Homo sapiens: one gene and its partner. The protein of the gene in region 2 interacts with the protein of the main gene of each other region in a pairwise test. Each region holds a gene or a part of one and is shown on either strand. Other genes may lie near its edges.

The links. Proteins that work in one complex are often made in the same cells at the same time.
Region 1: the proteins of EBP (region 2) and DEFB127 interact in binary tests that used the Homo sapiens proteins (3 or more experiments, as listed by UniProt).

Annotation. Positions count from the first base shown.
Region 1 is NC_000020.11:155,335-159,161, reverse strand, and holds the start of DEFB127 (beta-defensin 127 preproprotein), read right to left. Parts: upstream 1,709-3,827; 5' UTR 1,618-1,708; coding exon 1,569-1,617; intron 389-1,568; coding exon 138-388; 3' UTR 1-137. UniProt on the Homo sapiens protein: Has antibacterial activity.
Region 2 is NC_000023.11:48,520,145-48,523,744, reverse strand, and holds the start of EBP (3-beta-hydroxysteroid-Delta(8),Delta(7)-isomerase), read right to left. Parts: upstream 1,938-3,600; 5' UTR 1,838-1,937; intron 47-1,837; 5' UTR 1-46. Other genes in the region: PORCN (protein-serine O-palmitoleoyltransferase porcupine), read right to left, coding at 3,269-3,370. UniProt on the Homo sapiens protein: Isomerase that catalyzes the conversion of Delta(8)-sterols to their corresponding Delta(7)-isomers a catalytic step in the postlanosterol biosynthesis of cholesterol.

The DNA of each region.
Region 1 (3,827 bases), on a different chromosome or scaffold from region 2:
CTGGCAATGCACTTTATTAGAATATGCTCGAAGGTCATTTTAAGGATCAAGAAACCAAAAGGAAGAAGATGTATATCTCATCACCTTAGTTTATTAGACTAGGTTGAGAAGCAAGTGAAAACGAAATTGTATTTGATTTATGTAGACTGTGTCTTCAGGCTTGGGAAATTTTCTATTATTGTAACATAGTCTTGAAGAGTCAGTGCAAGTGTTGCTGGCTTTGGACGAGGTGGCTTTGTAATTTTTTTACATGCTTCCAGTTCCTTGATATTGAGGCAACAGTATCTCCCATTTTCACATAGTGCCTCAGGCACTTCATTTACTCTGCAGATTTTCCTGCAATGTCCTTGTACATAGTTATTCCAGCACTTCTTAAGTTGTTCGGTTACTATACACAGAAAGGAGCAATAGAACAATATCAGTGTTTGAGACTGAAGGCACGTTGGTTTTGGGGAAGACAGAGGAGGCTTGTAGGAATTAGGGGTATGGGGTATCCACAAGGCAGACCCTCATATATTCTGAAGAGGATTTTCCGACAAGGTCAACCTCAGTGTTTGTATTTAACTGGATCACTTATATTTAGGTCCTGTGAGGTTTTAGGCCTCCCTTAACATCTGATAGACTCTGCCAAGAACATAAGATCTTATCTGAGAAAATAAAGGAGCTGAACCCTTGATTCTAGGCTATGGAACTATGCTCTACATAGGAACCTCAGCAAATCTGCCTGCATCCTGAATGCTCCCAGAGCACTACCTTCTACTGCACCTCCTCTGATGCCCAGAGAACAATGTATTGTTACTATGTGTTTATGTCTGAATCAAACTGTTCTCCTGAGTTCAAACCCACTATCAGGGTCAAGAATGACTTTCATGTTATCCAGTAAGGTAGTAGTCTATTGGGTCTTAGGAATGTAGAGGGTCAGGAATAGGCCATTACTATTCTTATAATAAGGGACACATGTAAGAAATCTGGTTTTGAAAGAGGAAAGGAAACTCTAATTTTTGAGTTCTCAGTATGTGCCAAGCTTCACATAGGTTATATCATTTAATAAAACCCCTGTTAACCAGGTGTCATTATCTCCATAGATGAGGAAACTGAGGCTCCTAGAGTCTTCACTACTTAAAGTTGACAAACTAGTAGATATTGAAGGCATGTTTCTTAAACCTAACTCCAAAATTTGCTTCTTCCTCTATTCATGCACACACACACACACACACACACACACACACATATATATATTTGAGTAAAAGGAAATATAGCTGAGCATCAGAGTAAAAACCATATCCAAAGACATAAAGGTATCCCTAGATATTGGCATCATTCCTTTCTATAACAACACATCTTTCCCAGAAGAAATTATGACCTCTTTTTAGCTCAGTGAGTACTCCTCTTTAAGGATAGTAACATGGAATAAGGCTCCAGAAAGAGGAAATTTCTGATGATGTTGGATAAACTTTAGCCATCTTTGGGGGCTCTATTTCCCTTTAGTGTGGATTATGAAGTTCCCTTTGGCTCCTGAAAATGCTCCATCCCACTGTTGATTTGAGTGAGCTTCTGGTTTGGTTTACCTGTGGGTTTCTGGAACAGCAGAATTGCAATGATCATGAAGAGCCCCATGGCCAGGCTTTCCAGAAGAGGTGCAGCCAAAGCTTTTGGTCCAGTGAACTGCACACTATGCTACCTTCCTCAGAGACTTAGATTCTTATGCACTGAACCAGAACAGATGGGATGATATGAAGTGTGTCCTTAAGCTTCTGAACTGTGAGCTTTGCATCATGCAGGCAGACACAGGAAATTTCAGGCCACCCACTTTACCCCCACATGGAATAGAGATACAGCATGTTCCATCCCATCGCACCAAATGCCGCTGTGTAGGCTGTAGACTGCTGGGAAGAATCTGTGATTTTCCTGCTTTGACTCTCTGCGCAGCCGGACCAAGATCGAAATGTACTCACCTCCAAGAATGAATGTGGCAGTATAAACCAGGACATAAATCTGAAACTCTAACAATAAGAATTTCTAGTAGGTTTCTTGCACATTTCGAAAGAAGGTATGATGTAGTTGGGTCTGATCTGAGGTCACCTGATTTTTTATAAAAGCACCAAGAACATACACTGGGGAAAGGATACCCTCTTCAATAAATCATGCTGGAGAAACTGGATTTCCATGTGCAGAAGAATATATATTATGTATATATATATGTACACACATATATACATATATATGCACACAATGGAATACTATACATACATAACACACAATGGAATATATATATATATATATACACACACACACACAATGGAATACTATTCACCCATAAAAATAATGAAATTCTGTCCTTTGCAACAACATGGATAGCCTGGAGGACATTATGTTATGTGAAATGTCAGGCACAGAAAGATTACCACATGTTCCTATTTATATATGGGAGCTAAAAAAGTTGAGCACATGGAAGTAGAGAGTAGTGTTGCAGATATTAATATTAGAGGCTGGTAATGATTAGGGAGAGGGGAGGATGGAGAGAGATTGGCTAATGGATGCAAAATTATAGATAGGAGGAATGACTTCTGGTGTTGTAGCACTGTAAGGTGAATATGGTTAACTACAATTTATTGTATACTTTTAAAAGGCTAGAAGAGAGGATTTTGAATGTTCCCAATACAAATGATAAATGTTTGAGGTGACGGATATGCTAATTACCCTGGTTTGATCATTACACATTATATGCATGTATTGAAATATCACTTTGTATCCTATAAATAAGTACAATTATGTGTCAACTAAAAATAAAAGGAAAAATGGCTAAAATGGCCAATGTTATGTCATATATTTTACCACAATTAGAAGAAAAAGATGCATGAGGGTATTTTTTTTCTACCAGTTGTACCTTGTCTTTGAAAATATTAAAATGTTGCCACAAGGAATCGATGTTTACCTAGATCATTCTTTGATCATTGATTGCAGTTTTCAAAAAATTTCAACCCTGTTAACCACTGAGATGCATTAAATAAATAAGCCAGTTGGCTTAGAGATGAGCCCTATGGCCATTATTCAGGTCACGTAGTGGTTTTACACAAGAATATGTTTAAACAGAGAGATGTTGACATATAAGAAATCCTTTTTAGAGGCAAATGTAAATTTAAGAGCAGTTACCTCAGAGGTCTCAAGGGTCACCTCCCTTTACTTTTGCCACCAGCTTTTACATGGTTTAAGTCCTAGTCAAGGGATTGGTTTTATTATTTATAGTCTTCCTGTGAATGCAAACTTTCCTTATAGGTGACTTGGTGGTGGAGCATCAAATAAAGACCCTAAGTCTGAGCAGTCAGGAGAAATACAAAAAGCCTTCCTATTAAAGTTGTATTTCTGAAGCTGGATGTTAAATTAGTAATAATAAATATAAGGATAGGAATGGGTCCTAAGAGCAAGGACAAATTTTTAATAAAACAAATAAAAATAAAATTATAATATTCATATTAGCAGAAGAACATATGATCCATCCAACAGAAACTAAAAAAAATGAGGAATAGATAAGTCACAACTGGAGGGCAGAAAAAAGTCCTAATAGATCAGTAGTTATAATACATTCACATGGCTTAAACTCACTGATTAGATGACAGAGATTCATTATTGGATTAAAAAAAGATTTCAGCAATATTAGACAATAAGACACATATATAGTAGACTGTTATTAATAGAATATAGTAGAATAGATATATTGAACAATGTATCTGGTGAAAATAACCAAAAAAGTTGGGTAAATGTAAAAAGGAAATTACTGCATTGAGAAACCGTCAAAAATGAAAGGAATCTGCACAGGCCAAAAACTA
Region 2 (3,600 bases):
TATAGGCAGGAAGTTAAAAAAAAAAAAAAAAAAGGAACAGAAAAACCTGGACAAATAGAAAGTACAGAATGAGATAATAAAATCAAATTCAAATAGTTTATTATCATGAGAAATGTAAATGGACCGAATTTACCAGTTAACAGACAGGATTGTAACACTTCTAATTACATTCCGTTTTTTTTTTTTTTTTTCAGACGGAGTCTTGCTCTGTCACCCAGGCTGGAGTGGAGTGGTGCGACCTCGGCTCACTGCAACCTCTGCCTTCCGGGTTCAAACGATTCTCCTGCCTCAGCCTCCCGAGTAGCTGGGACTACAGGTGCCTGCCACCACGCCCAGCTAATTTTTTGTATTTTTAGTAGAGACGGGGTTTCACCGTGTTAGCCAGGATGGTCTTGATCTCCTGACCTCACGATCCGCCCGCCTCAGCCTCCCAAAGTGCTGGGATTACAGGCGTGAGCCACTGCGCCCGGCCTACATTCTGTTTTAAGACCATGACTAAAGGCCAGGCACCGTGGCAGGTAATTCCAGTGCTTTGGGAGGCTGATGCAGGAGCAGCACCTGAGGCCAGGAATTCAAGTCCGGCCTGGGCAACACAGCGAAACTGTCTCTAAAAAAATAAGAAAATCAGTCAGGTGTGGTGACAAAGGCCTGTAGTCCCAGCTAGTAGGTAGGCTGAGGCAGGAGGATCGCTTTGAGCCCAGGACTTCAAGGCTGAAGTGAGCAGTGACCACATCACTGCCCTCCAGTCTGAGACTCTGCCTCTAAAAAAGAAGGCCGGGCGCGGTGGCTCACGCCTGTAATCCCAGCACTTTGGGAGGCCAAGACGAGTGGACCACTTGAGCTCAGGAGTTCAAGACCAGCCCGGCCAACATGGCAAAACCCCGTCTCTACTAAAAATACAAAAATTAGCCAGGTGTGGTGGCGTGCGCCTGTAGTTACAGCTACTCAGGAGGCTGAGGCAGGAGAATCGCTTGAACCTGGGAGGCAGAGGCTGCAGTGAGCCGGGGTCATGCCACTGCACTCCAGCCTGGGCAACAGAGCGAGACTCTGTCTCAAAATAAAATAAAAAAGAAAAGAAAAAGAACATGACTGAAACACAAGGCCACAGAAAGGCTGAAAGCTTGTTCCAGCCCTTTAGAAGCCATATTATGATGTGGTAGAAACAGTCCCGGTCTCAGCCCTCGGGGGTCAAAGTCTGGTGGGAGGCACATGGGAACAACACCTGATCCCAGCCCTCCCTGGTCACAGTCTGGCGAGGGAGATACAGGACCAGGCCTGGTGTCTTCCTTCAAGGGTCACAAACTGCTCACGACCACCAAACCCAGTCCTGTGCTCCGGGGTCACGGTTTGGTAAGAGACACAGGAACCAGGCGTGGTCCAGTTGCACAGGTCAGCGTCTTAAACCGTTCAACAAAAAGCTATTCCCTCCCCCACGTAGTCCTGAAAACTGCAACTGGGGGACAGAGGAAAGAAAACGAATCAGAACTACAACCCTCGGTGCCAGCGTTTGGAAAGCCAGAGCCTCCCCGCGAGAGCGTGCAACGCCGTCAACCTGCAGGGAAGAGACGGATATTGAAAGGCCGGTGTCTGGCGTGCAGCGCTAGAACGGAACACAAAGCCGGTCAATCCGAACCAGAACCCTCCAGTCCCGCTGCCCAATGAGAAGACGGATCTTCTGTCCTCTGGACAACCGTGCGGTAGCTGGGGGTCTCGCGCAGGCGCAAAAGGGCGGTGGGGGGGGCGGGTGGCAAAGGGTCTCGCGCTGGCACGCCGAGGGCTGGCCGCGTAGCCGGGGAGAGCTGGGGGAGGGAGCAGGGGCCGGGTGGAGGGCACTCACCAAGGCGCGCGACGGCAGCGGCCTCCCACGCTGGCTCCGGGCTCTCTTTAGGCTGGGTCTCGCGCTCTGTCACATCCCTAGTTCGGGCTCATCCCCTAGTGGGTTCTCTTGCCTTACGGAGCGAGCCAATGGTGAAGCGAAGAAGGCGGCCCGTGCCGCTCCCAACCAATAGACACTCTCTTTGTACCTCTAGCCCCGCCCCCGCGCGTGGCGCCATTTTCACCTGAGTTAGGTTTGGGGTGGAGACTGGGACGCGCCAAGGTTAGTGGGCGTTTTGGATCCGTAGCCAATCTGCATCGAGTCCTGGCTTCAATTTCCCCATTCCCTTATCAGTCGATCAAAACGGGGACTCATTAAGGTCTGTACCCGCTTCTTCCGCTGGTGAAATTAGCGTTGCGTTGCATCCTTTCACCTCCGCCCTTTTCTAGGTAGAGTAACCCTTAGTATAATGCAACGAAACTGTTACAAGCAGATCACACGCTATACACTGCAACCACCCCCTCCCCAGCTCTTCAGTGCTCAGAACTCCTCAGTCCTAATAGCAGCGGTCATTCTCTCTTCTCCCGACCTCAAGTCAGAAGAACTAGTTAGAACCCAGGCCTCTCAGTCCTACTGACCAATTGGCATGAAGACCCTCAATCTCCATATGCCAGTTCTAAAAAGCCAATCAAACGCCTAACCACCAGTGGGCCCCCAGATGGAGCAATCAATCAGAATCCAGACCCATCCCAGACCTCCCATCCAATTAGAACCCACAACCCTCAGTCCTAAGGATAAATAGGCACCAACCCTTCATCTCTCTTGCTTTCTCTCCTCTGTGTCCCACTCAGAGCAACCAATCAGAATGGGGATCCTTCAGTTTTCCAGCCAATCAGGCCTCCCCCACATCCAACTATGCAATCTGTCCCTGCCCTGATCAAACCAAGCAGGACCAGGATCCTGCCATCTTCAGGCTCATCATCTAATCAATCATAAACTAACCATGAACCAATCACAGTCTGCTCTCTCTTCATGGTTTCCAGCTTCCAAACCTTTATCCATGCTGTGCTCCCTTCCTCACTCATTCCTATTCCCCTCTGAGCAGTGAAGAAGAAGCCTATTGAATATTTCCTACTTTTATTTGACAATAACAAATTGTATATAAAAAGGAAGAAGGAAGGCGGGGAGGCCCTGGATCTCCCCTTCTCTGTTTCCCCAAGCATCCCCCTCTAGGCCCCAGCAGGCACCACCCCCTTCCTGCCTTGTGGTGGGGTGGGGATTGACAGGCATGAAAATGGTGTGATTTTGTGTGTGTGTGTGTGTGTGTGTGTTGAGGTGTTGGGGGTCAAGGATGGAGGGGGTCAAGGAGTAGAGAGAGGGCCTTCCCTCATCCCCCATCAGTGGCACCCTGAGAGGGGTCTTAAGAGGGTTATGAGGGTCCACAGATGTGCCTCAGCCTATGAGACGGTAGAAGATCCAGCATCCAAAAGTGACCCAGTGACTGGCCCAGCTGAGCTCTGACCACTTGTGGACAGTGTATGCCATGCCGTAGCCCTGTGGGAGAGAAAGAGGTGATGGTCCCACTTAGCAAGGACAAAGAAGTTCTTAGGAAAACCCATCCTTTGCCCAAGGACATTTCTGTGACTGCTCTAGGCGAGGCCCCGCAGAAGGGCCTAGGTACATATGAAAGGTGACCAGATATAGTTTTTGTCTTCTTCTTTAAAAATCATTTTAAAAACAAAGTGATCCCATTCTCTGACCTGTTATCTCCCTAATATATAAAG